Linked DNA regions of Homo sapiens: all the other regions are reported to be linked to region 6. Evidence: microRNA targets listed by miRTarBase, many of them from high-throughput screens and not tested one by one. Region 6 holds a microRNA gene; each other region holds the end of a gene's coding sequence. Distances are between the middles of the regions.

What was found. Region 6 holds the annotated microRNA hsa-miR-223-5p (CGUGUAUUUGACAAGCUGAGUU, at 3,397-3,418, shown strand). A microRNA usually pairs through its seed, bases 2 to 8, with sites in the 3' UTR of a target mRNA and lowers its output. Matches are read on the target gene's strand: a 7mer-m8 pairs with bases 2 to 8, a 7mer-A1 pairs with bases 2 to 7 and ends in A, and an 8mer does both.
Region 1: the mRNA of ADAMTS9 is a reported target of hsa-miR-223-5p. The part of its 3' UTR that is shown has no 7-base or 8-base seed match.
Region 2: miRTarBase lists C12orf60 as a target of hsa-miR-223-5p. The part of its 3' UTR that is shown has no 7-base or 8-base seed match.
Region 3: the mRNA of ZDHHC15 is a reported target of hsa-miR-223-5p. The part of its 3' UTR that is shown has no 7-base or 8-base seed match.
Region 4: miRTarBase lists RGS5 as a target of hsa-miR-223-5p. Seed matches in the 3' UTR shown: 7mer-A1 at 3,782-3,788.
Region 5: miRTarBase lists ZNF655 as a target of hsa-miR-223-5p. Seed matches in the 3' UTR shown: 7mer-A1 at 2,771-2,777 and 7mer-A1 at 3,090-3,096.
Region 7: miRTarBase lists DMXL1 as a target of hsa-miR-223-5p. The part of its 3' UTR that is shown has no 7-base or 8-base seed match.

What each region holds. Positions count from the first base shown.
Region 1 is chr3:64,518,205-64,522,895 of GRCh38, forward strand. ADAMTS9 (ADAM metallopeptidase with thrombospondin type 1 motif 9) reads right to left here. Exons shown (of 40, transcript NM_182920.2): 39 at 3,962-4,056. The coding sequence ends at 3,967. Among named protein-coding and RNA genes, the nearest start is that of ADAMTS9-AS1, 41 kb to the right of the region's middle.
Region 2 is chr12:14,822,430-14,827,036 of GRCh38, reverse strand. It overlaps C12orf60 (chromosome 12 open reading frame 60), which reads right to left. Exons shown (of 2, transcript NM_175874.4): 2 at 2,622-4,125. The coding sequence starts at 4,101. The coding sequence ends at 3,364. It overlaps ART4 (ADP-ribosyltransferase 4 (inactive) (Dombrock blood group)), which reads left to right. Exons shown (of 3, transcript NM_021071.4): 3 at 1-1,468. Among named protein-coding and RNA genes, the nearest start is that of SMCO3, 11 kb to the right of the region's middle.
Region 3 is chrX:75,375,383-75,380,073 of GRCh38, forward strand. ZDHHC15 (zDHHC palmitoyltransferase 15) reads right to left here. Exons shown (of 12, transcript NM_144969.3): 11 at 3,738-3,816. The coding sequence ends at 3,770. Among named protein-coding and RNA genes, the nearest start is that of UPRT, 100 kb to the left of the region's middle.
Region 4 is chr1:163,143,317-163,148,007 of GRCh38, reverse strand. It overlaps RGS5 (regulator of G protein signaling 5), which reads left to right. Exons shown (of 5, transcript NM_003617.4): 5 at 505-4,691. The coding sequence ends at 666. Among named protein-coding and RNA genes, the nearest start is that of RGS5-AS1, 16 kb to the left of the region's middle.
Region 5 is chr7:99,572,480-99,577,170 of GRCh38, forward strand. ZNF655 (zinc finger protein 655) reads left to right here. Exons shown (of 3, transcript NM_138494.3): 3 at 1-3,974. The coding sequence ends at 1,105. Among named protein-coding and RNA genes, the nearest start is that of ZNF655, 16 kb to the left of the region's middle.
Region 6 is chrX:66,015,499-66,020,189 of GRCh38, forward strand. MIR223 (microRNA 223) reads left to right here and starts at 3,372; the gene lies at 3,372-3,481. It overlaps MIR223HG (MIR223 host gene), which reads left to right. Exons shown (of 3, transcript NR_170299.1): 1 at 1-53; 2 at 1,567-1,691; 3 at 3,326-4,691.
Region 7 is chr5:119,246,457-119,251,147 of GRCh38, reverse strand. It overlaps DMXL1 (Dmx like 1), which reads right to left. Exons shown (of 44, transcript NM_001290321.3): 44 at 2,021-4,153. The coding sequence ends at 3,929. Among named protein-coding and RNA genes, the nearest start is that of MIR5706, 94 kb to the right of the region's middle.

The DNA of each region.
Region 1 (4,691 bases), not on the chromosome of region 6:
CTGGATCTAGCCATGCCTGAAGCTAGCATACTTCTTGGATATCTCAGTTTCTTAAGATAACAAATTTCCTTCATTTCCTTAGCTCCTTGTAACAGAAATAATCCTAAATGTCAAATAGGCACTCTTGTATCAGGATCTTCAAGAGCCTTACACGGTAATGGGCTACTGGAAGCTTGAGGGAAGATGCAGGTGGGTCACATGAATTGGTTGAGCTCATTCCTTGCAGCTGAAGACATGGGGATGATAAAAAGACTGACCAGTTCCGTCTTTTACTCAGCAGAAGAATCACCTTCTGGCATAATGTACTCAGGTCAGGGATTGCCGAACTTTAACATGCATGACTCCTGTGGACTTTGTTAAAATGCAGATTCTGATTTCACAGGTATAGGGTGAGGCCTGACATTGTGCATTTCTAACAAGTTCCTAGGTAAAGCTGATCGAGCTGATTCTTGGACCACACCATGAGTAACAGGGGTGTGGCACAGTGGAGTGATTAAGAGCACTGGCTTTAGTGTAGGACACTCTGAGTTCTGCCGAGGGAATTTATCATTACCTTTTCATTTTTTTTTTTTTTTTTTTTTTTTTTGAGACAGAGGCTTACTCTCTCACCCAGGCTGGAGTGCAGTGGCGGGGCGTGGTCTTGGCTGACTGCAACCTCTGTCTCCCAGGTTAAAGCGATTCTCCTGCCTCAGGCTCCCAAGTAGCTAGGACTACAGGCATGTGCCAACACACCCAGCTAAATTTTGAATTTATAGTAGAGATGGGGTTTCACCATGTTGGCCAGACTGGTCTCAAACTCCTGACCTCAAGTGATCTGCCTGCCACAGCTTCCCAAAATGCTGGAATTACAGGCATGAGCCACCGTGCCCAGCCTCATCATGATCTTAAGCAAGTTACTTAATTGTTGTGGGCCTCAGCTTCCTCATATGTAAAATAGCAGCTCCTCCACACAGTTTTGTTGTGAGGATTCAATGAAATATTGCTCAACAAATGCCACTGTAGTTTTACTATTACATTCTTGGGATGTATTTCTCAAAGGATGAGCTGTGATTCACTTGCATTAGAATTCTCTGTATTAAAGTTACAGATCCCTGAATCCACCAGAGACCTAATGAAGCAGGACCCCTAGAGATGCAGCCCAATAAACAGCCTTTTAAATAAGCTCTGCAAAGAGCTGGTACCAATCCTATTGAAACAATTTTTTCAAAATCGAAGAAGAGATATTCCTTCCTAACTCATTCTATGAAACCTCTATCATCCTGATACCAATACCTGGCAAAAACACAAGAAAAAAAGAAAACTACAGACTAATATCCCTGATGAACATTGACATGAAAATCCTCAACAAAATACTAGCAAACTGAATCCAGCAACATACCAAAAAGATAATCTACCATGATCGAGTGGACTTTATTCTTGGCAGGCAAGGATCATTCAACATATGCAAGTCAATAAATGTGATTCACCACACAAACAATTAAAAACAAAAACAATATGACCATATCAATAGATGCAGAAAAAGCATTAGATAAAATCCAACATCCCTTCATGATAAAAACCTACAAGGCATAAGACATCAAAAGAACATACCTCAAAATAAAAGCCATCTCTAACAAACCCACAGCCAATATCATACTTAACAGGCAAAAGTTGGAAGCATTCCTCCTAAGAATGGGAACAAGACAAGAATGTGTACTCTCACCACTCCTATTCAACATAGTATTGGAAATCTTAGCCAGAGCAATCAGGCAAGAGAAAGAAAGAAAAGACATCAAAAGAGGAAAAGAGGAAGTCAAATTATCTTCCTTCACTGACAATATGATTCTATACAAAGAAAACCCTAAATATTCCACCAAAAGATTCCTAGACCTGAAAAATGACTTCAGTAAATTTTCAGGGTGCAAAATAAATGTACAAAAATCAGAAGCATTTCTATACACAAATAACATTCAAGCTGAGAACCAAATCAAGAATGCAATCCAATTTACAGTCACCACAAAAAGAATAAAATACCTAGGAATACATCTAATCAAGCAGGTAAAAGAGCTCTACAAGGAGAATTATAAACATTGCTTAAGGAAATCATAGATGACACAAATAGAAAAACGTTCCATGCTCATCTATTGGAAGAATCAATAGCATTAAAATGTCCATACTGCCCAAAGAAATACACAGATTCAACAAAATTCCCATCAAATTACCAATGTTATTCTTTACAGTGTTAGAAGAAGAACTATTCTAAAATTGATATGGAACCAAAGCAGAGCCTAAAAGCGAAAGCAATCCTAAGCAAAAAGAACGAAGCCAGAGGTATCATATTACCGGACTTCAAACTCTACTCCAAGGCAGCAAACTAAAGGTAACCAAAACAGCATGGTACTGGTACTAAAATAGACACAAAAATTAATGGAACAGAATAAGGAACCCAGAAATAAAGCTATACATCTATAACCAACTGGACTTCAACACAATCAACAAAAATAAACAATGGGGAAAGCACACCCTATAATAAATGGTGCTGGAAAAACTGGCTAACCATATACAGAAGAATGAAATTGAACTCTTACCTCTTACCATATACAAAAAATAACTCAGGATACATTAAAGACTTAAATGTAAGACTTCAAAACATAAAAATTCTAGAAGAAAACCCAGGAAATACTCTTCTGAACATTGGCCTAGGCAAACAAATTATGACTAAGTCCTCAAAAGCAAATGCAACAAAATGAAAATTGATAATGGAGACCTAACTAAATTAAAGAGCTTCTGCACATCAAAAGAAACTATCAACAGAATAAATGGACAATCTACAGAATAGGAGAAAACATTTTTAACCTATACATTTGATAAAGGAATAATATCCAGAATCTATAAGGAACTTAAGCAAATCAACAAGAAAAAAACAAATAACCCTATTAAAAAGTGGGCAAAGGACATGGACAGACACTTCTCAAAAGAAGACACACAAGCAGCCAACAAATATAAGAAAAAATGCTGAACATCACTTATCATCACAGAAATGCAAGTCAAAACCACACTGAGATAACATCTCATGCCAATCAGAATGGCGATTCTTAAAAAGTAAAAAGATAACAGATATTGGTGAGACTGCAGAGAAAAATGGAATACACTGTTGGTGGGACTGTAAATTAGTTCATCCTTTGTGAAAAGCAGTTTGGAGAGTTCTTAAAGAACTAAAAATATAACTACCATTTGACCCAGCAATCCATTACTGGGTATATATCAAAAAGAAAATAAATCATTCAACCAAAAAGACACCTGCACTCACATGTTTATTGCAGCACTATTCACAATAGCAAACGTGGAATCAACCTAGGTACCGATTAATGGTGGACTGGATTTTAAAAATGTGGTCTGTATACATGATGAAATACTATGCAGCCATAAAAAATAATGAAATCATGTCCTTTGCAGCAATATGGATGCAGCTGGAGGCAATTTTCCTAAGTGAATTAACACAGAAACAAAAAATCAAATACCATATGCTCTTGCTTATAAGTGGGAGTGGAATACTGGGTACACATGGACATAAAGACTGAAATAATGGACACTGGTAACTCCAAAAGGGAGGAGGAAGGGAAGGGAAAACTATTTATTGGATACTACTTTCACTATTTGGGTGATGGGTTCAAACGAAGCCTACATCTCAACACACTATAACAGTGTAACAAACTTGCACATGTACCTCCTGAATCTAAAATCTAAAAGCAAATAAATAAATAGGCCAGCTCTGTAGAGGGGAAGCCATGTCTAATGGCAGAGAACTGATGGCTTCAGTCACGTGAGGACAGAGGAGCAGGAGATAAAAAGGTAGAACTGTATTGGGTCAGCTTCAAGATGCTTAACTGTAACCCTGCCTGATCCTCCCACATTTGCTCATATAGGCTACAGAAAAAAATAAAAGACAAATACACAGACAGACAGACATAGGACTACTTACCTTAGCTATAAAACTCGCACCTCCAGGCCAGTACCAGAGGATGGAGTGCATTTTCCACAGTAACCACCGCATTTCCCTACGACTCGGGTACCATCCTGCAAGGAGATGCATCATGTTAGCCTGCCTGCTTGGTTAATGCTTTCAGGGCCTGCACTGGCTTTTTGGGAAAACGTTCTTATACACACAGTAAACAGGCCTTCTGAACTGATGTGAAGCCCAACATACTCACCATGGTCTAAAGCAGGGGCTGGCAAACTTCAGCCTGTGAGCCAAATCCAGCCCACCACCTGTTTCTGTATGGCTTGCAAGCTAAGGATGATTTTTATATTTTTAAATAATTGAGAAAAAGTAAACCAAAAATTACATTTCTTGACACATAAAATCATATGAAATTCAAATTTCAGTGTCTATTAATAAAGTTTTATTGGAATACAGCCACATTCATTAATTTACCTGATGTCTATAGCTGCTTTCATGCTGCAAAAAAAGAACTGAGTCTCAGCTTCATACTGCTTCTCGGTGCACAACAAATCACAGTGACATTGTTTTAATTTGAGAGTGTTTTGAGTGATGTGTGTATTGCTAGATCATTACAATTTATGTGCTTATTACCAGTGTATACCATTATGACAAATCAAGAAAAGAAGAGAAAGGTAGACTTTGAATGTTGCACTTTTAAGGTACAATGGCATGTGGATTATTTTGTTATCAAATTTAGATGACAAAGGAT
Region 2 (4,607 bases), not on the chromosome of region 6:
TCATAACAATTCAAAAGAAAGATTTCTTCCAACTGAGGCAAGAAGAGACACCCGGAAGGCTTTAAGTAAGAGGCTGCATTTGAACCAGCCGTTAGGGCTCTAGGCTGGGAGAAGGGGTGAGCAGAAGGAGAAAAAAACAAGAAAGAGTATGTGCCAAGTGCGTAGTGCCCAAAACAAGGCCAAATATTAAATGCTTGGAGCTGAGAGAAAAATGTGATTCCTCTGGCCTATGGTTAGATAAAGCTTTCTATCAGAGATGATGTTTTACTTAGAGGAAAGCAGAAAATAGAAGCGAATACGGAATGATCGATGTATGTACAGCATAAGGTCAGGGAGCAGATAGGTCTGGCAGAGAGTGAGGGGTAATGTGGGCTGGAGAGGAAATTGGAAGCCACTCAGTGAAGCTAAAAAGTCAGCCAAAAGCATTTGATTTCCATGAGAAGTCATAATTTTCTGAGTAAGACAATTCTCCTAAAGCGTTGACTCTCTAGGCACAAGCAGCAATAGCATCCTTTAAGAACTCATTAGAAATGTGAATTTTAGGGCCTGATCCCAGACTACAGACTACAGAAATTGAACAGTCTGTTTTAATAAGTCCTCTAGATGATTCTGCTATACACCAACATTTGAGAACACTGTGACTTACACAATTATGATCCTTAAGGGAATAGCCAAGTTTCTAAAAAAGATAACTTAGTTCTAACTCCTGCTGCTGTTTTACAGATCAAATCTCTGGAGACAGAAACTATTCTCTTAAAATTATGTAGATTCATGAGTTTGGTTAAGGATAAATGTACATAGCTCACATCCCCTCAGTCTCTCCCTATAGTCCAAAGTTGTTGAGCAAGGAATCTGTAGAGTATTGATTTAAATTGATTAAGTTACATGTTTATGAAACTCTAAGAGACTAGTTTTAGAAATTTCACTGTAATTTCTGCTGGGATAAATTTGTTAGCCTGGGATATCTTCCAAAGATAAGGCGGATGCTCAAATATGTGTAAATTCATGCAACTGTTAACAGAGACTGTGCTGTAAGGAGTACTTATGTCCTATAGTAATTTTATTAAACAAATACATGTATGTCTCCTTTTGATGTGTACAGAAATATACTGTTTAATCTGAAGAAGCTGATTGAAACAGGAAAAATTTAAAAAGTAAAAACACTCAACCCATGTAATACTTTATTTTTATAACAAGGTGTTCTCTTTAATACGCCTATTAGATTATCCTGAAGTTCTCTATTTACTCTTACTTTAAAAAAAATCCAATGAAAGAAAATTTCAGTAAAGTTTGTTTTGCTAGAAGAATCAGGATTCTTGTACTGAGTTGTCTAATAATATGAATCAAATTGATTTACACTGAATGAACTAGCTCTTGATTTGGTAAAATTCAACAAGCATTTATTAGGTGCTTTCAGAAATACCAAGATGCAGCAAACACTGGCAACTAATAAAAAAAATTACAAGTATAATAGTATTTCATTTTTTTTAATAGTAAATGATCATGTGTTGTGTTGTGTGGCAGTTCACTTTTTCCTCCCTACTGATGATTCATTCAAACAGCTAGGCCATCCCATGCTCACAGCCTAGAGGAGGAATGAGACCAGGCATAGTATAGAAACACACCCCACTTTGTTCTTCAAAAACTGAAGGATATTAGAGAAAATGAGAGGAACCCAAAACCAAAGTATTTGAGAGAAACATTAAATGTGAGTAATAGGTTTGAGAAAAAAATACAGCTTTTCCTCAGTATTTCCAGAAGCCAGGAGGCAGCAGCAGACATGATGTCATTAGAGTGGTCAGACTGGTGGTACCCAGTGGTGGGAAAATGTGAAACACTGTAAGTGATCACCAGCCTAACAACAGCCACCAGCACTGGAAGACCACTCATCTTTATTGAAGTGGGCACTTCCCATCTCTAACACCCTGGTTGTCATTCCCATTGGCATCTGGCAAGGACTTCCTGTGAACTGCCACCAGCTATTCTTCCAGTCACCTCACAGAAAGACTATGCACCAAGACTTTTCTTGGTCCTTGTCTCATTCATTTCCATATGAATCCCCCTAGCTGTTGCATCCAACATTCTGAAACATAATCCTAAAACTAAAAGGAGATTGAAACCCTAGACACATATAGGTCCAGAAAAAGTAGCAAAGTGAGAGTCCTGTCTCCCTTCTCCTCTCTCTCACCCTCTGTGTGTGTGTGTGTGTGTGTGTGTGTATGTGTATGGTAGCAAATGAATCAATTTAACATCCTCTTCAAAATAATAGAGTTCTTAATAGAAACCTATTACAAATAAGCAAGGTTTCAGCTTTGCTGTGGAGAGAAAATGAGAGTTAATGTATTGAAACTCATCGTTTTTTCCAGAACCTCCAAGCTCTGGTAATGGTCAAAATCCACTTGACCCTCCCTACCAAACATTTTGAAATTATATGAGGATGGAGAAGGGACTCCTTATTTTAAATGACAATGGGAATTACAATGATGGCTTTGGCTTGGAGTTATTATTGCTTTTCCTATTCTCAACAGAGTTCTATCAGGTATCATGTGAAATAGTTAACTTCAACACCAATCTTAGGAGTACATACTCATTTACAATGCATGAGAACCAAAGACTTATGGTAGACAAAGAGACTGCCCTATCTCATTTCTTTAAATAAAGCACATCTCAGATATCCTACTTCTGCAAGTGTTTTCCTTGTGAAAGTCTTTTCTTTGTGAAAGGCTAGAGTACTTCCATTTTTCCACCTCTAGTATTTTCTAATCATAAGACCTCAGGAGACAAGTGAGAATGAACTATCTGTTCTGGTCTTACTCACATAAGCAAGAAAAGTCTATTATTGCTCATTCACTGTTCTCACTTACTTATGAATCATATTTAAAATATTTAGTGATGGCTTCTGATCGTCAAGGTACTGAAGTATATAGAAATTGGTATATGAGTGACAAAAATGGAGTTTATTTTGTTTCCCAGGCCTAGATTTTCTATCTAATGATAATATTTACAGTTTACCTGGATTTCTCACTGGAAATAGAATAGTTAAGAGTGGGAACTACTTTAGGGTTGTTTTAATTATGCTTTAAGATGAAACACAATATTTAGAAACATCCTCAAATGTAATACCACTTTGTTTTTTTCAACAATATATTCTTCTTAGTGACTGACATTTCAAACAGGCTTTCTTAATTATTTCTTTTTATTTTAATAAAGCAAAACTACAGGTAAATGTTTTGCCAGATGACTTTTGTGTACTTATGTTCTAACATAGCACATGTTTGGCACCAAAAGATCTTAGAAACTACTATGAAAAACCATAAGATTTTAAGTAGTTTTCTGACAGAAATGAACATTTCTGTTGCATCCCTACTTGTCACTGGCTTTCTTAAACACAGAAATATTCATTTCCATAGTCTTTATCGCTTTTTGGAGGATCTCTAAGATTGGTCCCATAGCCTTGACAATTTGTTCCAACAAATCTGCTGCTGACTTTGTGGGATTTTTGGAATCCTCAGTTTTTAGTACATCCTGCAGTTTTTTCAAGGTGTCTATCATAGTGGTTTTGGAAGAACCTGGAGGACTTCTGGTTCTCTCAGATGTGGTGACATCTGATTGCTCTTTGGTGTCTTCTGTATAGAAGTCACTTAATTGAAGATTCATGATGGGGAATTTCATCAAGTGTGAAAGAGAAGATTCCAGACTCCCAAGGATGTTACTGCTGTTTAGCACAGAGATGATGACTGGCGTATGGGCACTTTTGAATACTTCTTTAGCTGACTGATGCAACTCCTCTACATTGGTACTCTTCTGAACCACAGAGCACATGGCCATTGCAACCTTGGAACATAAAGACTCCTTTTGAATTTTGTCATGTCTTGCATCCACTACAGATTGCATCTCCTTAAAAATTTTGAGCATTTGCTCAAAAAAATCCTTAATGTAACTATTGTTTTTCACAGCCATCAAAAGGATTTGAGTATTCATACTGCGGCTAAACAATTCAGTCAGTGTGTTTATGACAGAAGCAAGATCTTGTACATGAAAGAAGAACATTTTGGCAGCTTGAATCAGTCTCTCTTTATCCTTTTCTGACTCTGAAGACATTTCTCCAACAAATAAGTTCCAACACTGCAAAGCAAAGCAGTAATCCAAATGAAAAATAAAAGTCGATTTGGCAACCATAAAGAAACTGAAAGTATAGTCTAAATATGAAGATAACTCCCCCTGCCAAGGGCAGGAAAGCTATACATACGTTGAAACAAAAATGGTACTATGCTTCAATAAAAATAATAACAAAAATAATTAAAACAGGGTAGAATAGGGTTGTATCGCCAAATTTATACCACATATCAAATACTGGGTGCTGGATCCCGAATATATGGATAGATTGATATACTGAATTACACTACACTCAAGGATACTACCCTTAACTATTCAATGTAGTGAAAAATACTGGATAAAGCATTACAAATTACATAGAGGGGCTCTGGTTCCAGTTAAGGTAGACTAAGCACACTCCATCTGATCTTTCCTACTGATTACAACTAAAAATCCTGGACTGAATATATAAAATCACTATCAGATAATTCTGAAAGGTGGATGACAGAAGG
Region 3 (4,691 bases), 9.4 Mb from region 6:
TTGCCCATTTACTTTTTACAAAATTTGAAAATAATTTCATCTTTTATTTTAGATTCGGGGTACATGTGCAGGTTCGTTAGGTGGTATATTGTGTGATGCTGAGGTTTGGGGTATAGATCCCATCACCTAGGTAGTGAGCATAGTACCCAATAGGTAGTTTTTCAACCCACCCCCTTCTGTCCTTCCCCAACTAGTAGTCCACAGTGTCTATTGTTGCCATCTTTGTTTCCATGGGTACTCAATGTTTAGCTCCCATTTATGAATGAGAACATGCATTATTTGGTTTCCTGTTTCTGTGTTAATTTTCTTAGGATTATGGCCTCCAGCTGCATCCATGTTGCAGAAAAGGATAAGATTTCATTATTTTTTATGGCTGTGTAGTATCCATCATATACATGTACCACATTTTCTTTGTCTAGTCCTCTGTTGATGGACACCTAGGTTGATTGCATGTCTTTGCTGCTGTGAATAGTGCTGTGATGAACATATATGTACATAAGTCTTTTTGTTAGAAGGATTTATTTTCCTTGGGTATATATACCCAGTAATGGGGTTGCTGGGTGGCATGGCAGTTCTAAGTGTTTTTGAGAAATCTTGAAACTGCTTTCCACGGTGGATGGACTAATTTACATTCCCATCAACAGTGTATAAGCATACCCTTTTCTCTGGAGCTTCACTAGCATCTGTTATTTTTTGACTTTTTAATAATAGCCATTCTGACTGGTGTGAGATAGTACCTCATTGCGGTTTGGATTTGCATTTCTCTGATGATTAGTGATGATGAGCATTTTTTTTCATATGTTTGTTGGCTGCTTGTATGTCTTCATTTGAGAAACGTCTGTTCATCATGTCCTTTGCCCATTTTTAATGGGGTTGTTTTTTTTTTTTTGCTTGTTAAGTTCCCTATAGATTCTGGATATTAAACTTTTGTCAGATGCATTGTTTGCAAATATTTTCTTCCATTCTGTAGATTGTTTTTGCTACTGATAATTTCTTTTGCTGTGCAGAAGCTCTTTAGTTTAATTAGATCCCACTTGTCAATTTTTGTTTCTGTTGCAATTGCTTTTGGGGACTTGGCCAAAAATTCTTTGCCAAGGCCAATGTTGAGAAGGGTATTTCCTAGGGTTGCTTCTAGGATTTTTATAGTTTGAAGTCTTACATTTAAGTCTTTAATCCATCTTGAGTTAATGTTTGCATATGGAGAAAAGTAAGGGTCCAGTTTCAGTCTTCTGCATATGGCTAGCCAGTTATCCCAGCACCATTAATTGAATAGAGAGTTCTTTCCTCATTGCTTTCTTTTGTTGCTTTGCCCATTTTCTAACTGTTGTGTTTTTCTTTTGTTTACTGATTTGCAAGAGCTTTGTAAATTAAGCATATTAAATTTTGTGTGTTGTATAGTTTGCAAATATTTTTCAAGTTTGTCTTTTCATTTTGAAGAAAATATAATCTAGAATAAGTACATTTTTGGGGTAAAAATTATGGCAATAATTTTTTATATACAAAATTTAGAGGCAAAATGAAAAAATTAGCATTGATTCTACATTTTAAACACAAGGGATTCATGTTTTCTTTCATCCTTTTTTATTTAAAAAACTTCAAAAGAAAATGAAGGGAAATATATATTAAATATCTAATTACTTGGACATATATAATGTATTAATGCATTCTTCTACTGATAGACATTCAGGTTGTTTTCAGTTTGGAGCTTTTTACAAATATCACTGTAGTAATTATCTACATACAGTTTAAACAATTCTTCATATCTTAATAAGTTTTAAAAGGTTTCTCCCACTCTTCCCTCCTGTGTTCCCAAGTACTTTTCTATTATTATCAGAATATGAGGCCCGGCACGGTGGCTAATCCCAACACTTTGGGAGGCCGAGGTGGGCAGATCACTTGAGGTCAGGAGTTAGACACCAGCCTGGCCAACAGGGAGAAACCCCATCTCTACCAAAAATACAAAAAGCAGCCGGGCGTGGTGGCACACACCTGTAATCCCAGCTACTTGGGTTCTGAGGCAGAAGAATCACTTGAACCTGGGAGGTGGAGGTTGCAGTGAGCCGAGATCACTCCACTGCACTCCAACCTGGGCAACAGAGTGAGACTCCATCTCAAAAAAAAAATATATATATATGTATATATGAGTTTGTGATTTCCACAAAATGAATCACTTTATTAATATATTTGGACAGAGTGCCCTGTAAAAGGCATAAGGCATTGCTTGAAGGCAATTTTGCTTATCTAGGGAAGTATATAAAAAATGCATTTCAAAGTTCCTTAGCATATTAATGGTCCTGATAAGTATTGCACGAAATACTAGGTTCCATGATAGGCACAAAAAAGAAAGGATCCAACAGTTAAATAAAATTTAAGGGACCACTACAACCTCCTTTTGGTGAGCCACAAAACTCAATAGTGTAGTAAAACCCCTGAGAATTCCTACACTAAAGCCAACTTTCTAATTTTGCTTATATAGGGTTTTATAAATTTATTTACCAGATAATTTTTCTTCCCTTTAACATCTGTTACCATGCCAAAGTAGTAGTGTTTCCCCTAGGAAAATACTAAAATAAAATAGACAGATTAGCACCACAGATAACCCAAATCTAGATATTACTATCATATAAGTTGTCTTACCTAAACATCAAACATTTCATCAGGGCTTTGGATAAGGAAACAGACTTGGTTCTCTCCTTTTTTAATCTTTGATAATAAATAAAGACACATCACAAATAACTCAGATTTTGAAATGTAGTGCCATGGTGGAAATAGCATGCTTTGAGGTCAGATAGACCTGAGTTACAACCCTAGGTTGGCCACTTACTACATATGCAGACTTGGATAAGTGATTTAACCTCTCTGCATATCAGTTTTCTCATAAGTAAAATGGGAATAGTAACATTCATCTTACAGTTGATGTGAGGATTAAATAAGATCATATATATCAAGTACACACCAAAGTGGCTGGCATATACAAAGTTTTATACAATATGTACACTTGTACACAGCAGAATTTCTGTAAGGGAAAGAACTGAAGACCTGGGAACCCACGAACAGATTGTAAGCTTCTGAATAATTGCTAGCTTTTTTCATGAGAATAGGATTAGAAGTTTCATCCGATCAGAGCTATAAGCTCTATGGTATTTCTATTACTAACATTCTTTTAATATTTAATTACACTGGGTTTATACCTGTGAGTGTTGCAAAAAGAAGGTCGTCGAGCTTTTCACCAGGCCAAAGAGAATCCCATGTGTAAAGTTGTCTGCCACTACTTAACAAACTCATAGCATTTTAGGAGGGTTACAGTGTAGGAAGGATGCTTTTTTGCCCTTAGTGGGGAAGACTAGGTTATTAACTGACATAATGGAGTCAGGCAAAAGAAAGCTATTTGTAATCTGTACCATTTCAGAGACCTGGAATGAAACAGGAGGAGGCTTATAATTCACAGTATGAGAGTAAATAACCTTAACGGAATGTTTGGGTGTCTGGATCCCCGGAGTTTTTTTCAGCACAAGTGACATAAGTGTGAGTTTGCAGGGAATAAGGGCATCTTTTTTTTCAGCACACTGCCAAGGGAAATTATGTATAGAACTTCTGCTTATGCATGCATTACAAGAGTGAAGAATTTAAAATCTTTTTCACCCAGGATAAGAACTTATTTCTTTTCTAGTTCTTCTCCCAAGCCGCCTTCTTAGCAGTCCAGGTGCCACTGTATGTGTCTCCCTCAGAATACTGACCTGTCTGAGAGATGCAGGAAATGTGAAAACTGCTATGTTTCCGTTTCCACAGCAAGAGATGATGAGCCTTCTGGATAATCTGCAAGGTTGAAACGTGAAGATGATCAAATGTCCCCGTGCCTTATATGGGTGGGTATTCATTCACTGGCAGTTTTCCTTCTTGTTCAATCTCTGCAGGCAACAGATACCTGCAAACCTCTAAAGACTGATGTGTAACACAGAAGCATTTGTAACCAGACATTCACATTCTAAGAATAGTCAGCCTGCTATACTATGAACTAAGATTATTTATCAGCATTATCTGATCTATAATACTGGCTGGTATTTGACTTAAATAGCTATGATGACAGCTCAACATAATCTGACTTTAATGGAATGTTTTGCATCTTGCTACCCACAAAATTACCCTGTTTTGCTGTTATTCCACCGGACATAATTGAGTTAGCTATTACAGTACTTTAGGTGATGGTGTGTTTCTAAAAAAGGAATGAGGTATCTAGAAAATAAGAGGCTTTGGGATTAACAAGCAACATCATTTATGGTACAAATGTTTTTGTTTCTGACCTCCAGCCTTTTGGGAGAGCACACTCTGAATCAGCTTGCTGAATGTACAGGTAATCACTTTTCTCATACTCACAGCATAATAATATACTTGGCATTTTGAGATTAAAAAGTTGACAGTAGCCATCCCCTACAGTTTCTGCACAGCACAGTGTCTTTTATGTGCCATTCAGAGTGCTTTCTTAAGTGTGAAATCTAGATTCCTAAAGACAGAGGCCAGCCAGTCAGTGTGAGTTATCCTTGCCACAGAAGGCTGCAAGCTCTCATGCCACTGAGTTAAACAGGCAGATTCCAGACAGCAGGTTGCTTTCTTCCAGGAAAACTGGAAAAATAAAAGTGGCTCTGAGAATGTCTCTTTGGAATCATGACCCTATGGTAGGCCCAACATTCTGT
Region 4 (4,691 bases), not on the chromosome of region 6:
TGCAGTGAACCAAATGGCGCCACTGCACTCCAGCCTGCCTGAGTGACAGAACTAGACTCTATCCAACAAAAAAAAAAAAAAAAAAAAAAGAAAAAGAAAAAAGCACCAGGACACCTGGATTCAAATTCTGATTCTCTAGATTCAAATACACTTATCAGTTCTGTGATCTTGGGGAAGCCACTTAACCTTCTGCATATAATATTTTTTTCTATAAAAGGAAAGAATCATTCTTAGGATTGTTGTCAAGGATTAAATAAGTAATGTGTGTGTTAGCTTCTATGGGAGGTCTGACACCTGGTGGGTGTCTAATACCGGTTGGATGCATCTGTTGGAACATCAGCTGCCTTATCCCATCGCCTATAAAGTGAGAAGTGACATGTCTCAGTTTTTAATGACTTTCCTCCCCTCTTATGTTTTATTGATGAGAAATTCCACCTCCCTCTTCACCCCTCATCAAATTCTATAACTTAGGCTTATGTAGTGACCCTGTTTCCTGGCCCACAGGTGAATATTGACCACTTCACTAAGGACATCACAATGAAGAACCTGGTGGAACCTTCCCTGAGCAGCTTTGACATGGCCCAGAAAAGAATCCATGCCCTGATGGAAAAGGATTCTCTGCCTCGCTTTGTGCGCTCTGAGTTTTATCAGGAGTTAATCAAGTAGTAATTTAGCCAGGCTATGAAATCATCCTGTGAGTTATTTCCTCCATAATAACCCTGCATTTCCCATTAATCTACATATCTTCCCACAGCAGCTTTGCTCAGTGATACCCACATGGGAAAAATCCCAGGGGATGTTGCTTACTCTTTTTGCCCACACTGCTTTGGATACTTATCTACTGTCCGAAGGCCTTCTTTCCCCACTCAATTCTTCCTGCCCTGTTATTAATTAAGATATCTTCAGCTTGTAGTCAGACACAATCAGAATCACAGAAAAATCCTGCCTAAGGCAAAGAAATATAAGACAAGACTATGATATCAATGAATGTGGGTTAAGTAATAGATTTCCAGCTAAATTGGTCTAAAAAAGAATATTAAGTGTGGACAGACCTATTTCAAAGGAGCTTAATTGATCTCACTTGTTTTAGTTCTGATCCAGGGAGATCACCCCTCTAATTATTTCTGAACTTGGTTAATAAAAGTTTATAAGATTTTTATGAAGCAGCCACTGTATGATATTTTAAGCAAATATGTTATTTAAAATATTGATCCTTCCCTTGGACCACCTTCATGTTAGTTGGGTATTATAAATAAGAGATACAACCATGAATATATTATGTTTATACAAAATCAATCTGAACACAATTCATAAAGATTTCTCTTTTATACCTTCCTCACTGGCCCCCTCCACCTGCCCATAGTCACCAAATTCTGTTTTAAATCAATGACCTAAGATCAACAATGAAGTATTTTATAAATGTATTTATGCTGCTAGACTGTGGGTCAAATGTTTCCATTTTCAAATTATTTAGAATTCTTATGAGTTTAAAATTTGTAAATTTCTAAATCCAATCATGTAAAATGAAACTGTTGCTCCATTGGAGTAGTCTCCCACCTAAATATCAAGATGGCTATATGCTAAAAAGAGAAAATATGGTCAAGTCTAAAATGGCTAATTGTCCTATGATGCTATTATCATAGACTAATGACATTTATCTTCAAAACACCAAATTGTCTTTAGAAAAATTAATGTGATTACAGGTAGAGGCCTTCTAGGTGAGACACTTTTAAGGTACACTGCATTTTGCAAAAAAAAAAAAAAAAAGTAATCTTTTAGCAACCCCAGTATTCCTTCACTATTTCGCTTCCTGCATTAGCAAATTTTACTTACAGTCAAAAGTGCAGATTTATACTCCTGACGTGTCTCATTCACAGCTAAATAATAGGCCATAGGACTTTTGGTAGGTTTAAACTTTTAATTCTGTATTTCATGATTATAAGTCTTGCTAGAATTTTTTCTAATCTTTAGTAGATTTGATTAAATAATGATTCACAGAATTTAGTAACAGAATCAAACTAAGCCATGTATGAGGGTAATCGAGATGAGGATATTAACTCAAAAGAAATAGGGTGATTTTTAAAGGATTAATAAAATTCTGAAATGTTAAGTAGAAGATTACATTGTCTAGTCTTGTATTTCCTCCTTCTGTTGCTCTCTTTCATTCACACACTCTCAGTTTCTCATATTTGTAGCTCATTTATTTGGTTATTTCCTAAGAATATTGAAAGTGAAGCAACTATGTGACTGTATTCTTCAGGTAAACACTGACTGCGCTTGTTGGATTTTCCCTATTTTTGTGACTTCAAGAATAATATGCCCTGCTGAATACATGCCATTTCACATTCTGAAACTGGGTAGAGTGGTTGGGTGTTCTGCCAACAATTGCTAGTGGTGTGAATTCATTCATATTTGCCAGTATTGCTCACTTCAAAGAAACTCCTTCATCAAGCAGTCCAGAGCTAGGCCAGATCAATGCTACAATCATGAAGTTCTCATTGCATGCAATTGTGTAGGATTGACAAGGAACTCAGATAAAAATTTCCAGGGTGCACTTCCAGAACCAGCTTCAACATATGTCTACATTGCCCCCAAGTTAATAAAGTGCCAACCCTTTACTCTCTCATACAGCCAGAAATGTTAGAAATCCAAAATCTTGGTGCATTATTTTTTCATAAACGCTAAAACATTTGAAGAAACAATTTAATTATTTAAAATTCAAGTATTTTATTCACATTATTTGCAATATCCAAATGTTTAAAAATTCCCAGATAATTAACTAGCTATTACAGATCTCACCTAGAGGGTTGATGTTATGAAGACTCCAGTGGACTGTACTCACAAATTGACTGGACACCCTATGAAAGTGGGTAGACCTCTCAGCGGAAAATAAGAAGGGCTTTTACCTACAGGGCAGGACAGGGTCCCATGAGAGCAGTTCTGTGGAGATATAAAAAGAATGGAAGAAGGAATGCCTTATAGTGATATTGTGACATTATATCTATATATCTACATATATCTATCTATCTATATCTACATCTATATAATCTTACATTTAAAATTGTATTCCTACACATATTAGAAACTCTTCTAATAAATGAAGTAAAAAAATTAAAAAGAATACAAATATTCCAGCCCCAAATGAGAAATCAAACATATTAAAATTGTTCAAGAAAATTTCTTTGAACACTTCTGAAAGTTTTTGGAAACTTAGAAAAGAGGGAAAAAAATCCAGTGTTACTAGTAATTTCCATGGTAATACAGATAAAATACATTCTTTTAATTCTGGGAAATTAGAAAAAGTGGGGTGATCTTTCCAGGAAAAACATGTGTAACATCTGCTTATCACTCCAGCTCCCTCCTCCTCCTCCTCTCCACGTTCCCTTGAGTAAATGTCTGGGAAAGCATGAAGCTTGATGCAAGAACCCTGTTGTACTGGCGTTTTCCTCCCCTGTGAAAACGTAACTACTGTTGGGAGTGAATTGAGGATGTAGAAAGGTGGTGGAACCAAATTGTGGTCAATGGAAATAGGAGAATATGGTTCTCACTCTTGAGAAAAAAACCTAAGATTAGCCCAGGTAGTTGCCTGTAACTTCAGTTTTTCTGCCTGGGTTTGATATAGTTTAGGGTTGGGGTTAGATTAAGATCTAAATTACATCAGGACAAAGAGACAGACTATTAACTCCACAGTTAATTAAGGACGTATGTTCCATGTTTATTTGTTAAAGCAGTGTGAATAGCCTTCAAGCATGTGAATAATCTTCCATCTTCCCCGCCACACATACACACACACACTTTTTGTTTCTTTCAGGTAGACACCTTTTAAAATGCAGAACTAACTGAGGCATTTCAGTAACTTTGCTTTCAAATCAATAAAGTCAAATGTATGGAAACATTTTGTGCCCTACTCTCCATACCCCGTGTACTCAAATTCTCTACTGTATGAATTATGCTTTAAGTAGAATTCAGTGCCAAGGAGAACTTGGTGAAATAAATTATTTTAATTTTTTTTTTATCCTTTACAAAGCCATGGATTTTATTTGGTTGATGTGTGCTCTGTACACAAGCCATTTCAATAGGATGGAGCTGTTAATTATTTTCCAAAGAGTAATAGACATGCAAAAGTTTCAATAAAAACTGGGCCATTAACAAATAAATTAATAAACTAATAAGCATTCCCTTCTAGGTTTTTGCCAAACTGCCTATCCAATAACAAATTTGAGAATCGTTGTAAAAGCTAGTTATATTTCAGAGAAATGATTTTCATTATTGAAACTGTTCTCCCTAGCAGGCCATTTTCCCTTTTTCCTGGGAGTTTAGCAAGTTTAGGAGAGAATAGTCATGAAAAGAAAGGGAAGAAAGGGGAGAAGGGAAGAGGTTAAAAAGTAAGTGCTCAGACCTATGAACGTAATCCCTTTGCTACAAATATTTAAGAGCAGCTCAGCTTGGTTGAAACTGAGTTTTGTCATCTTCCATATTTGCAGGAAGGTATTTTCTGACTTGCAATGCAGCTAGATGTAAAATTTTATTTTATCATCCTAGAAAGCCTTGACTAGAAAAATGAATAAATATTGAGGGTTTCCTGTCCATATCTGGCTTGCATGTGCCAGAAAGCAGAGAATAGAAAATGTAATCTCCAACATCCAAGCATCGAAACCCAAGGGGTAGGCAATTCTATGTAGGTTTTGGAC
Region 5 (4,691 bases), not on the chromosome of region 6:
CAGTGAGAAGAACAATGAATGTCATGAACCCGAAAAAAGCTTCAGTCTGGACTCTACTATTGATGCAGATCAGAGAGTTCTTAGAATACAGAATACCGATGACAATGATAAGTATGACATGAGCTTCAACCAGAATTCAGCCTCTGGTAAACATGAACACTTAAATCTAACAGAGGATTTTCAGAGTAGTGAATGTAAGGAAAGCTTAATGGATCTCTCCCACCTTAATAAATGGGAGAGCATCCCTAACACTGAGAAATCCTATAAATGTGATGTATGTGGGAAAATTTTCCATCAGAGCTCAGCCCTTACTAGACATCAGAGAATCCATACTAGAGAGAAGCCCTACAAATGTAAAGAATGTGAAAAGTCTTTCAGTCAGAGCTCAAGTCTTAGTCGACATAAAAGAATACACACTAGAGAAAAACCTTACAAATGTGAAGCATCTGATAAATCCTGTGAAGCGTCTGATAAATCCTGTAGTCCAAGCTCAGGCATAATTCAGCATAAGAAAATTCACACCAGAGCCAAATCTTACAAATGTAGCAGTTGTGAAAGAGTCTTCAGTCGTAGTGTCCACCTTACTCAACATCAGAAAATTCACAAAGAGATGCCCTGTAAGTGTACTGTATGTGGCAGTGACTTCTGCCATACTTCATACCTACTTGAACATCAGAGGGTCCATCATGAAGAGAAAGCCTATGAGTATGATGAATATGGGTTGGCCTATATTAAACAACAAGGAATTCATTTCAGAGAAAAGCCCTATACGTGTAGTGAATGTGGAAAAGACTTCAGATTGAATTCACATCTTATTCAGCATCAAAGAATTCACACAGGAGAGAAAGCACATGAATGTAATGAATGTGGAAAAGCTTTCAGTCAAACCTCATGCCTTATTCAGCATCACAAAATGCATAGGAAAGAGAAATCGTATGAATGTAATGAGTATGAGGGCAGTTTCAGTCATAGCTCAGATCTTATCCTGCAACAAGAAGTCCTCACCAGACAGAAAGCCTTTGATTGTGATGTATGGGAAAAGAACTCCAGTCAGAGAGCACATCTAGTTCAACATCAGAGCATTCATACCAAAGAGAACTCATGAATGTAATGAAGATGGGAAGATATTTATCAAATTCAGGCTTCATTCAGCATCTGAGAGTTCACACCAGGGAGAAATCATGTATGTACTGCATGTGGTAAAGCCTTCAGTCATAGCTCAGCCATTGCTCAGCATCAGATAATTCACACCAGAGAGAAACCCTCTGAATGTGACGAATGAAGAAAAGGTATTAGTGTTAAACTCTTAATCGACTCCTGCAAATCTATACCAGTGAGAAATCTTACAAATGTATTGAATGTGGCAAATTTTTCATGCTATTAGTATTTTCATACCTTAGTCACATTTGGAGAATTCACATGGGAATAAAATTCCATTGCTGCAATGAATGTGAAAAAGCCATCAGTCAAAGAAACTACCTTGTTTAGTATCAAATTCACGCCATGCAAAAAGATTATAAATGTAATAAGCATGTATGTGTGTGAGGAGATTCAGTCATAACCCAACGCTCATTCAACATCAAAGAATTTATACCTAAGAGAACTTATTTGGGTGTAGTAAATGGCAGATCTTTCAATAGGAGTTTAACTAGTCTTTGTCATATCAGAATATCCATAGTAGACAAGAATTTGATGTAACGCAAATGGAAAAACTCGACACCACATTTCAGGCTTTACCCAACATCGAAATAATGGAGAGAAAATTGTTGATTATTTGTTTATGAAATTGTTAATACATAGTCCCAATCTTTTTCATTGCACAAAAATCTAGGGTTGACTTGGTAAATGCAGTGACATTTTCTCATGGAGTTCCTTTATTTAATATGTATTCTAAGTAGGTACGTTTATTTTTACTTTTTTATTATAATTTTGATATTAAAAAGAACAGAGATGGGGTCTTGCTTTGTTGCCCAGGCTGGTCTTGAACTCCTGGCCTCAAGCGATCCTCCCACCTGTCCTCCCAAAGTGCTGGGGTTACAGGCGTGTGTCACTGTGCTGGGCCTATTTTATTTATAGAACTCATTTAAGCTGTTTTTATTTTAATATGCCCTATAAACATTTTTATATTTTTTGAAATTGGTTCTTAGTGTTCACAACTTCCATAAGATACTGCTAATGCACCAGTATTAAAACACATCGACGTAAGTAGCTCATTTAGCTTTTTCTGCTGTTCTTGGCCCAAGTTCTTTCCAAAACCAACTCTTAGGCCTGCTCTTTACTAGGGATCTTATGTCGTATTGCTTTACAGCCACAACACTTGGATTCCTGTTGATTAACTTCTCCATTCTCTTAAGCACCTTTAGAAGATTTAGAAGTTTCCTAGTTTTAAGTGTTTCACCAGCAAGTATTCCATACCTACTTGATGTTGCTGGTCTGGTGTCTTATTTCCTAAAGTGAAGCATCTTTTTTTAAAAAAGAATTTGATTGACAATATATCCAGTCCAATATAAGTATGAAGGATTCTCTCTCCTGAGATTGTAGCAGGCAGCCAAACATTTTCAAATGATGCCCAAGGTTTTAGCTGTCTTGTGTGCATCCACAGTCTGCGAAGAAGACATGATAAGGACATCAGGGAGCCAACAAGACTCCTAATAGCCTCACTACATTCATCCAGTGCCTATTCTGCATGCCTAAGCTTAGAGTTCTTTTATATACCTCTACGGCCAGCAAAATGCTCAGGTCTGCTCTTGGTAGGGTAAACATAAAGAAGATACACAGGCCGGGCATGGTGGCTCACACCTGTAATCCCAGCACTTTGGGAGGCTGAGGCGGATGGATCACGAGGTCAGGCAGTCGAGACCATCCTGGCCAACATGGTGAAACCCCGTCTCTACTAAAAATACAAAAGTTAGCCGGGTGTGGTGGCACGCGCCTGTAATCCCAGCTACTCAGGAGGCTGAGGCAGGAGAACTGCTTGAACCTGGGAGGCGGAGGTTGCAGTGAGCCGAGATTGCACCACTGCACTCCAGCCTGGGCGACAGAGCAGGACTCTCTCTCAAAAAAACACAAAAAAACAAAAACAAAAAACCATACACACACACACACACACACAAATCAGCATCATAAGGGAATGTAGCCTTCCAACAGAGATGATGCTGTTCGTATGTTAATCTCAGAGACAGTATTTCAAGAGAGTGGCAGGTCTGTTCCTGGTAAAATTTTAACCATTAGGATTGCAGATAAATGTTTGAATTCTGCTCCTCTCTCATCAATCCAGGACAGTATTTGAAGTGTGAGGGCTTTGTGTATAGTTGTTTATCCATTACCACATTTTTGTATTTTAATAGTCTACAGGCTATATAAAAGAACATGGCTTTTTGACTGATAAAAGTGATTACAGATGTTGGCTCAAGTTCAGGGCCACCATCATATACCTAACAAGAGTTCATGATTCTTTAGGTAATGTCAAAACATTTTGTATTTTTCCATCTTAAGCTTTATAACATTTTGTGAGTAAGACAAATGTTATTTAAAATTCTTGTTGTCAGTCCAGCAATTGAGGCTTTCATAGTTCAGTGTTATAATATTCAGTAGGGACCCTCAACAAATATATAAAAATATGTTGCTCACTCTATAATCCTCCTATGGCTAACCTCTAGGATAGTTCTGCCACTATATTTTACTTCTTTGCCATCAGCAAGAGTAGGATTTCATCAAGGCAAGGTAGGAATCTAAATGAAATTGATATATAAATGAATTGATCTAAATGTAAAAGCAAATGAAAAATGCATGTGTTTTTTCCTGTCAAACATGTATACCCTTATGTATAGAGACCAGTAGTCACGTATGGTGACTGAAACAGGATTATGTAATCCCTAAAAAGCAGAATATGTAAAAATCACATGTATGCGTTTGGTTTAGGAATGTGCTTTTGTACTTCCACTTGAATAAAGGTGTGTTTGGTATTCTGAGAATTTGTTTCAAACAAAATCTGAAGGTCTCAGACAGAAGCGTTTGGGAATGTTGGAATCACATCTCTGGCTGCAACTCCTTTCCTCCCTGGAACTTGCTTCACAGCAAGAATGGATCACTTTCCTTTGCATTGATAACAAAGCTTGCTTTTCCACAGACCTCTGGAACAAAAGCTGAATGTTTGGGACTTAAAGGGGATTTGATTGGGAAGTTGTTGGTATATAAAATAAGACTAAATAGTTCGAGGTTTCAGTAGAACTAGGAATAACTTTTTGTTTGTTTGTTTGTTTTTTGAGACAGTCTCGTTCTGTCACCCAGGCTGGAGTGCAGTAGCGTGATCTCGGCTCACTGCAACCTCCGCCTCCTGGGTTCAAACGATTGTCTTGTGTCAGCCTCCCAAGTAGCTGGGATTACAGGCACCTGCCACCTTGCCTGGCTGATTTTTGTATTTTTAGTAGAGACCGGGTTTCACTGTGTTGGCCAGGCTGGTCTCAAACTCCTGACCTCAGGTAATCTGCCTGCCTCAGCCTCCCAAAGTGCTGGGATTACAGGCGTGAGCCGCTGTGCCCAGCCATATTTTTTAAATAAGTAAAACACTTTAAAAAAGGCGGACTCAAAATAGTCCTTTAGGGCAATCCTTTAAGCAGATATTTAATTGGCCTGATACATGAGTTTGTGTTCTGAGTCATTTTGGTCTTGAAAGGGGAGAGAAGAGAAAT
Region 6 (4,691 bases):
AGCACTGGGGAATCAGAGTCCCCTCCATGACCAAGGCACCACTCCACTGACAGGTATGGTATCCATTTGCCCTCTCTTCTTGGATTCTCAAGCTGGGGCAGAGTCCATGGCAGCCAAGGGTGGCTTGGATCTGCCCATCCCATTCTCTTCAGACCCTCCTCAGGGATTAAGGTCAAAGGTGGGAGGAAGAAGGCTTCCATTGGCCTTTTATCCTAGAGGTTCTAATGGAGGGGAAAAGGGGATAGGATATTTTCTATCCAATCAGGATGTTTAGGAGATAGTCACATGGAAGTGGAATGGCCTTTGGACCCAGGAGTCAGGAAACCTGAGTAGCAGTCCTGGTTTTACCATTTACCCAATGTGTATCTTTGGGTAAGTCCTTTCTCCAATCTAGGACACAGTTTTTTCACCCCTTTTGCAAAATAAAAAAGTAAAAAGAGGAAAAGAATGATTAGATAGATGCTGTCTAGAGACCCATGGTTATTAGATTCCTAATTTTCATGATTGTCAGCCCTCTGTCAAGAAAGAAGATGAGAGTAATCTTTGCATATGTAACTGTGGGTGGGGCTGAACACATTCAAGAGGAGAGTGCTGGTGGTAATCCATATAGCACTCTCTGAGAGGCATGACTCAAAGATGAAAGCCTCTTTTCTAGTCCAATCTTTGACTCCTAGAGATTCAAAATTGAAAGACTCTTAGAGACTAGGTACATATGGAAGAAACTGAGGTCCAGAAAGAGGAAGAAAGGGACTTGCCCAAAGTCATACAGAGAATCTGTAGCACAGCTGGGTCTGGGCTCCCAGGTCAGTCCTCTTTTTGCTCTATCCTAGGAGGACTGAGACATCAAGCAGCAGGACCTGTCCTGTAACTGACCCAGGACAGGTCCTGCTCATACTAGAGGCAGTCTGGGATTTTTAGGCATGGTCCTGAGGACTTCTTCTTTTCTTCTATTTTTCTTTCAGGTACTTGGCTCACTCTGAGTGTTCAGAGATTCCTAGACACCTACTTACCCCTAATTCTTCTGGTCTATTCCCTCCAATTCCCTCCATAAAAACTGACCCATCCTTTGCATCAACAATAGTGGCTTGATGACGCTCTTCAGTAGAGGATTTTGCATTTCATATGGGGAAAAATGATGTTATTCTAAGTAATATAACAGACCAAGAGAAGAGCTTTCAAATTCCCTTAATATCATCCCATATAGATATTTATGTCTTCTTTCTATGGGTCTGGTGAACATTTCTCAACTGAATGTGATTTTCTTACATACACTCCATTGGAGAGGCATACCAGTCTAGTTTCAGCTCAACCACTAACTCCTTCCATTAATACTGAAGCAATGTTGTCTATAAGGCTCCACAAATTTCAAAGTACTAATAATTTTTAGCCCCTTTCATGCCTCCTTTCCAGCCTTTCTGGAGGTGAATAAAGTCAGAAAGTGCATTCAAAAGGCTGTGAACACCTCCAGCTTATCTAGGTCTTCTTACTGGAGCTGACAGCCAATGAGTGTAATGATACAAAAAAGGTAACAATCCATTTCTTTTTCTCCTGCCATCCCCAACTCAGACTCTGTTAATCAGCTTGCTTGGCTGGCCTCCAACCATAGGTCCAGGGGCTGAGACAAGGTCCTTTTGAGCTCCTATGTGGGAGGCTCTGGAAAGCTTAGCAACACTTTCCAACAACTTTGCCAGGTAAGTAGGTAAGTCTCCTTGTTCTCATTTCCAGAGAAGACAACTGAAACCCAAAGAAAGACTTGCCCAAGCCATGATTGGCTAGTTGATGGCCAAGACAGCATTAGAACACAAGTTTGTCGATTCTGTCATGCCATATTTGGTGACCATGACTGCTGCTTTTGCTGCTGGGTGGATTAGGCTGAATTGGGTAGGTAGAAAAGGAAGTGAGGGAGTGAAAGAGCTTTAGTTTTGAGATGACTGCCAGAACTTAAATTGAAGGAGTATGTTACCTTCTTAACATTCAATTAAAAGAATAGAGCAAGAAAAGACACTGATTGTTTTCTTGCTGAAAGACAAGGCTGAATCCCTCTGTCTTACCTGGGCTGGGACAGGGCTTTCCGGCCTCATGGGGGCAGTTTACCATTTCTGGTAACCTTGTGATGTTTGCCACTTTTCATGACAATATTTAATGTAGACCAGCTACCTGCTCACAGATCAACTGCCACAGCTGGTAAGGGCAGTAATTTGACACCAGCAACCTGGGATTTTTAGCAACAGGATCTGATTGTTGCCAAGGGAATTCTCCCAGAAGTTTCAGACCTGACCCTGCTCCTGGCAGCTTCCTTATTGCCCTGGTGGCTTGTGGGTTCAGTGATCCCAAATGTTGCATTACAAAGCTATTGCCTGTTTTTGCCCTCTTTGTTGATGTGTCTTCCCTTTCCCAGAGGGATATACAGAGAAGGGAGGCAAAATAACCAATGAGGAAAGCTGTATAAGGCATACTGCTGAACTGTAAAAAATTTATTGTATAAACTTTACAAGTCTCCTCCCCAACAGGAGCCTTTGTTATCTCATTTATAACCTAAGTGAGTGAGACTAGATGATCTTTAAGGGCACTTTAATAGCTGCCATTCTTGAGTCCCTATGGGACAAGAGGATCATGTTAGGCAAGGCTGAGACCACAAGAAATCAATGTCACACCTGTCCAGATCCTGCTAAATCAATTGCCAATAGCTCTTTCTTTCATTTTGGTCACACAACCACTACTTTTTGAGCATTTGTTATGTATTGAATACTGAACCAAAGGCTTTACATGCATTATCTCCTGTCATTCTCACAATAACCTTATGAGGTAGGTATTATACTTACATACATTTTGTGGGTGTAGAAAACTTGAGCTCAGAGAGGTGAAATGATGTATCCAAGGTTGCCTAACTAGCTAATGGAAGAACTAGGATTTAAGCTCATGTTTAACCTCAAAGCCTATGTGCATAACCACAACACTGAAAACACAGCTTGGGAGAATTGAGAAGAGGGAGCAAGGATGCTGACTCTAGGGTCTGGTACTTTCCTCAAGTCAGGGAGGCAGGATGATGACCAAATTTTCCCCTCTCTGCTGCATAGAGGAACCCACTGAAGCTTGGGACCCCTAGAAATGCCATAGCTACAGGACTCAGGCCTGATGAGCTTCCAGCTGAGCACTGGGTGTCACTCGGGCTTTACCTGCTTATCTTCAGGATCTCTCTTCTGGTTAGGAACCCTATGCCTATTTTGCTCACTTCCCTATTCTGGTGCTTTGGTTGGTCCTTTGAGCAAGATCCCCGGGGCTAAGGGTGTGACTTCATCATTCCTTTCTCTCTCTTTCCCTCTAGGGTCACATCTCCCAGGAAGATCTCACTTCCCCACAGAAGCTCTTGGCCTGGCCTCCTGCAGTGCCACGCTCCGTGTATTTGACAAGCTGAGTTGGACACTCCATGTGGTAGAGTGTCAGTTTGTCAAATACCCCAAGTGCGGCACATGCTTACCAGCTCTAGGCCAGGGCAGATGGGATATGACGAATGGACTGCCAGCTGGATACAAGGATGCTCACCAAGCACCAAGTTCTCACAAGTTATTTTATGTGACTTTGCAGGAACTGAGGCATTATATCTGAGGACACCAGGGGAAAAGTGTGGCATCTCAGGGAAATACAGCCCTGGGCTGTGTCTACACACACCATGAGAGTGCTGATGGGGGCGCAATAGTCTTGAAAATGTATAAAGTGTCCAGGAATGGAAGTGCTCTTTGATTCATTATTATTTTCTTCCTTCATATTCCCCTCCCAGAGTCTCCTATCTAGGACATCAGCATTCTCACACAAGCCTAATGGCTTATCTGAGTAAGCAGGGCTTAGAAATTCACTTTCTTGATACTCAGTCTTGCCTTCTAAACACTCCTTGATCTTGCCTACCTCTCCCCTTTTCCACATGTCTTTTCCTGTAGGAACACTTTCTCCATTTATTCCTGCCTATCCAATTCTTCCCTATATTTCCTGGACCAGCTAAAGTCCAGTGTTTCCAGAGACTTTTGAAAGTCAACTTACACTTTTTCCTTCTTCATTCACAAAGCTCTTCTTCCCTGGGCCCTGGTATGTATGCCTTTCTCTCCTACTGTCTAATAGCACCTCGTAAATTGTCAATGAACTTTTCTAAGGGGTATTCTTGAATTCCCAACTAGATTGTGAGCTTCTGGAAGACAAGGCTATGTCTTTGATTGTTGTCTCCCCTACCACAGCCCAGTACTTTAGTTACAGAAAATAATAAATATTTACTGATTGATTGACTTTCCTCTTGTCCACTAGCTTTAGGTTTGGGGGCCAAATTCTACCCTGGATTTTGAAAAATTCAAACTGTGAACACCACAATGTTATAGAGCATATGAGGTAGTAGCCAGCATGAAGGATGTTTTCTTCCTGAGAAACAGTGTCAAGGGCTGGAGGAAGAGGGCAAAATAGCAGACTCAGAGGGCAAATAAATTTTGGTATTACTTGGTCACACAAGGTTATACAGGTGTTTTCTTGTAGGATTTTTCAGAGCCTTTAATAGTCTAATGTTGCATTGAGAATCTCAAAGAGGAAACCATAGAATGAGGCATTTGCCATACCTATCTGATCATGAATTTTCTTTTCCCCCACAGCCTTCTCCTGTGTCAATGTCCAATGAAGCACGATTTGGGAAACTGTCCTAGAGAAACTTTATA
Region 7 (4,691 bases), not on the chromosome of region 6:
AGGTGGTAATGCAAGCAATGGGGAGCAGCTATAAATACACATGAAGCTTTGCCCAACACTCACCTCCTGCTGTGCAACCCGGTACCAGTTGTCACCCATGGGCTGGGGACTCCTGCTCCAAAGGGTAACATTTTAACATTCAGCTTAAATAAATTTCACCAAAAATATCTCAACAATTCAAAGAGGAGTGTTCCTGACACCAGATCACTTTATTCAACAGAGCAGCTCCCAAAGTCATGAAGTACTACTTGGTTTAAAAATAAAGCTGTTTTTCCCACGTACACACATTCAACAAAACTATCTTTGGTATTACTTTACTGAGTGAGGTTTAAAGGAGTTTGGGAAAATATTACAGCCTTCTTCCTTTTCCCAATGCTAAAAGTTTTGTGTATTTTTTCCACATGCATTTCTTTGTTCATATATATTTTAAAAAGTCTAAACAATTAGGATATTGTATCTTTTGCTCTGTAATTTTTTTTCCTCATCAGCCTCTTCTCAGGCCAACATATACATATCTAACATTCTTTTTAGTGGTGAGAGAATATTCTATAATATTACATGTATGTACCATAATTTATTCAACCATTTACTTGCTAATTAACATTTAGATTTCCAGTTTTTTTTTTTTTTTTTTTTTCATTTTTATTTTTTGAGACAGACTTTTGCTCTGTCACCCAGGCTGGAGTGCAGTGGCATGATCTCGGCTCACTGCAACCTCCACCTCCTGGGTTCAAGTGGTTCTCCTGCCTCAGCCTCCTGAGTAGCTGGGACTACAGGCACACAACCCCATACTCCACTAATTTTTGTATTTTTAGTAGAGATGGGTTTCACCATGTTGGCCAGGCTGGCCACAAACTCCTGACCTCAAGTGACCTGTGCTTGCTTCAGCCTCCTAAAGTGCTGAGATTACAGGTGTGAGCCAACACATCTGGCCTCTAGAATATGTTTCAATAAACATCTGTGTCCTTACATTTTTATGCATGGAAGCTTTTATTTTTATAATTTCTCAGAAGGTTGTTCACTGAAAGTTATGTGTATTTGATTTTAATTCACACCCAGATAACTTTGCCAGCAATGTTTCTGCCAATTTCCTTGCATCTTCACCAAAATGGATATTGTCACTATTTAACCTTAAACCAATCTGATAAAAACTAGTATTACAGTAATACTTTTTAAAAAACAATCCATTAACCCTTATAATGAAGATGAACACACTTTATATTTGTTGACTTTTTCAATGTCCTGTTCTGTGAATTGCTTATTCACAGTGTGACCACTTCTCCAATAACTTAAACTTCTCTTTGTATACAGGGACACTGACATGTTTCCTATTACTATACAAATATTTCTTCTAGTCTACTTGTTGTTTTAACTTTGACTGTGGTCCCTGCCATATGACATTTAAATTTTTTATTAAGTAAAATATGTCTGTGTTTCCAATCTTGTTAAAAAGATCACTTCCACCCTAAGGTTGTATAGACTTTTCTTTGAATGTGTCTTTGTATTGTGTTTCCATTGTTGGGACCAATGTGAGAAATTTCTGCAATTCTTCTAAAAAATATTTTTTTTTTCAAAGAAGGGAGGGCAAGGGCAAAGAGCAAGAAAGGAGGATGGAGATGACTGGTCCATGGTTTTAGTTAAGAAAAATCCTAGATATCAGAAAATAAGATTTGTTAATGTTGTGAATCCTTATATGATCACAAAGCCACATTCTTAGGAAACACACAATTAAAAAATGTATTTTGATGTATCCACTCCATTAATGTGGATAATGAAATTTTACATATATGTATATCATTTTATATTTAAACATTTCAACAATTTTTATTCCCACCTTCCTTGAATGCTGCTTACCTATCAACTTAAAAAGACGGTAGAAAAGAACAGGGTATTCGGGAAAGTTATTCCATCCTCCTTACATTAACCAAATACAAATATGGAAATTCTTGATTTTAAAATGTCACATATTTTAAGTCAGCTAAATTGGCAACGATATTAAAACAATAGTATACCCCCTAAAAAAGTTTCTGCATGATTGTTTATTTAAAATATTATGACTCTGGATGTAAATACATATGGGCTTACATAATGTATGATTATCCATATAAATGCTCAATTAAAATATTTAGTTCATCCTTAAACACCTTTTGTTCTAATAAGCATAATAGTAAATATTTTATCTCATTGGAAGTGTTTAAAGCTGTTTGAATCTTGATTTGTGAAGAAATTACTGAAAAATAACTTAAGGTTAACTACATCAAACAATACTATTGTTTGCAATGCTGTCAGATTTCTCCATGGCAAAATAGTCGCATATGGTTATTGCACGATTTATAGGTACAGGTTATTATGTGCATATAAACTCTCTACATAATGACAGTGTTTGCACTGCAACTTGCTCAACACATTTAAAATTGTTGAAATACAATTTACAAAATCTTTAACAACATACTTTTAAGATAAAAGTATCCTGAGGATATTACAAAATTCATTTTACCAGCCCTTCATTTCTTTGCTTTGACTCTTTAATTTCCAAGATAATCGTTGCCCATATTTTATTACATAAAATGCTATTATTATATATTTCCTATTAAACAAAATATATTTAAGTTAAATAGTACATAATTGTCCCATAAACACTTAGTCCCATCTGCCTGTAGTCTCATTGGTTAAAATCAAGTATTTATCAAGTTTTCTATAATTCTGAATCAGAAAAGGTACAGCACAAAACAGACAGAAACAGGGTTAGCACATTTAAGTTAAAAGCATTGTGCATTTTAAATATTTTGGTCATATTTTATAATAAAATATTTTGGCAAAAATAAAATATAAGGTTTAGTTTATTTTCTATTAATGGTAGATCTGGAGAGTATTTTACATTTCTAAATAGTATCTACTTAATTTGACTGCTTTCACATTTGTTTCTGAAAACACTGCTATTCGCTTTTCAGAATTTTGAGATTAAAAGCACCTAAAAATAAGATAAAATAAAATTTAAGTAAAATATTTGTTTGATGCTCGAAAGTTGACAAATTCACAAACTTACTTTAAGTGTCTTACATGATATATGCCACCACAGAAACTTTATTGCCTGCTAAGACTTATTTGACTAAATCTAATCTTTAAAATAATAATCCTGATAGTCTCCTTGAAACTTATTTGAAAATTAGGATGGGAATTCAAAAATTTTTTAAAAATGAAAAGCACAGTTGCAAAAAAAAAGTTATTCTGGTGGCAATAGTTGTTATGGCACAAAAACACATGAAAAACCAGTTTTCGCTAATATATACAACTAAGTTCAAATAAGATGTGTAAGATACACACACACACACACACACACACGTATACATACATACAACTTGGGTTCCGGAGGGTAAACTACTGAAAACCTTACATATTGAGCCATCTAGCTCATTTATCACTGACGTCTCAATGACAATTTTAATGAAGATGTTCATTATTTTTTTCATTCTTACTCAAATACCTATCATTAATTAAGAGAAGAGTTTGAGATGTATAAGGCTAATAAAGGAAGTGAGAGTGTGGTGAATTAAGTGATGAGTATTATGTACAATTGCCTTTACAAAAAACGTATTTTTACTGTGGAAGAAATTCATGCAGAGATGCCTGTGGAAAAGTATCAATAAGAAAACAAAACACCTTTAACACTATGACATACTGATTATAATATACTATGATATGTATTATTACAGCATTACTTACACATTCTACTTTAGGCAATGTAATCTACTTCTGAATGACCTTGTTAATTTTTAAGGCATCAGTGCATCAAGGGCAAAGCTCCATAAAATAAATATAAAAACAAGAAAGCATTAGCTAATTTGTGGCATAGAGAATGATCACTGTATATTATATCTGTTGGCCACTTCCATATAGGTAATAAATTGTACATCTTATTGTAAAAATGTTATAGCATAAATTTCACATCATTTTTCAACACTTCATTTAAAGGGCTAAACTGATCTGGCAGTATTCTCATTTTCATTGTTCCATCAGCTCCACAGGAGAAAATGTGATTTGCAGGCCCTGTCTCAATTTGCATCACTCCAGTTCCAATATTTCTAAAAATGGACTGCCGAGCATGTTCACTGACAAAAGTATGGAGAAGACCAAAGGTAGAGAGACTCCAAATCTGAAAGATATTAAGAACAAACGGAAAATTAGGGTTGATGATGACCTTAAGAAATCAAATGAGGCCAGGTGCGGTGGCTCATGCCTGTAATCCCAGCACTTTGGGAGGTCAAGGCAGGCAGACCACCTAAGGTAAGGAGTTCAAGACCAGCCTGACCAACAAGGAGAAACCCCATCTCTACTAAAAATACAAAACTAGCCCGGCGAGGTGGCACATGCCTGTAATCCCAGCTACTCAGGAGGCTGGGGCAGGAGAACTGCTTCGACCCGGGAGGTGGAGTTTGTAGTGACCCAAGATCACACCATTGCGCTCCAGCCTGGGCAACAAGAGTGAAACTCCATCTCAAAAAAAAAAAAAAAAAAAAGGAAAAGAAAAGAAACCAAATAAAAATTTTAGGCCTGCATTCCTGTGCAGTAAGGAATTTCCAAAACAAAAATAGAGAAAAATCTGTGTAGGCCTAGGATCATAACACCTTGATTCTGTATAGAGTGTTGTAATCTACCAATTGCTTTAACACAAAATACTTAAAAATCCATCT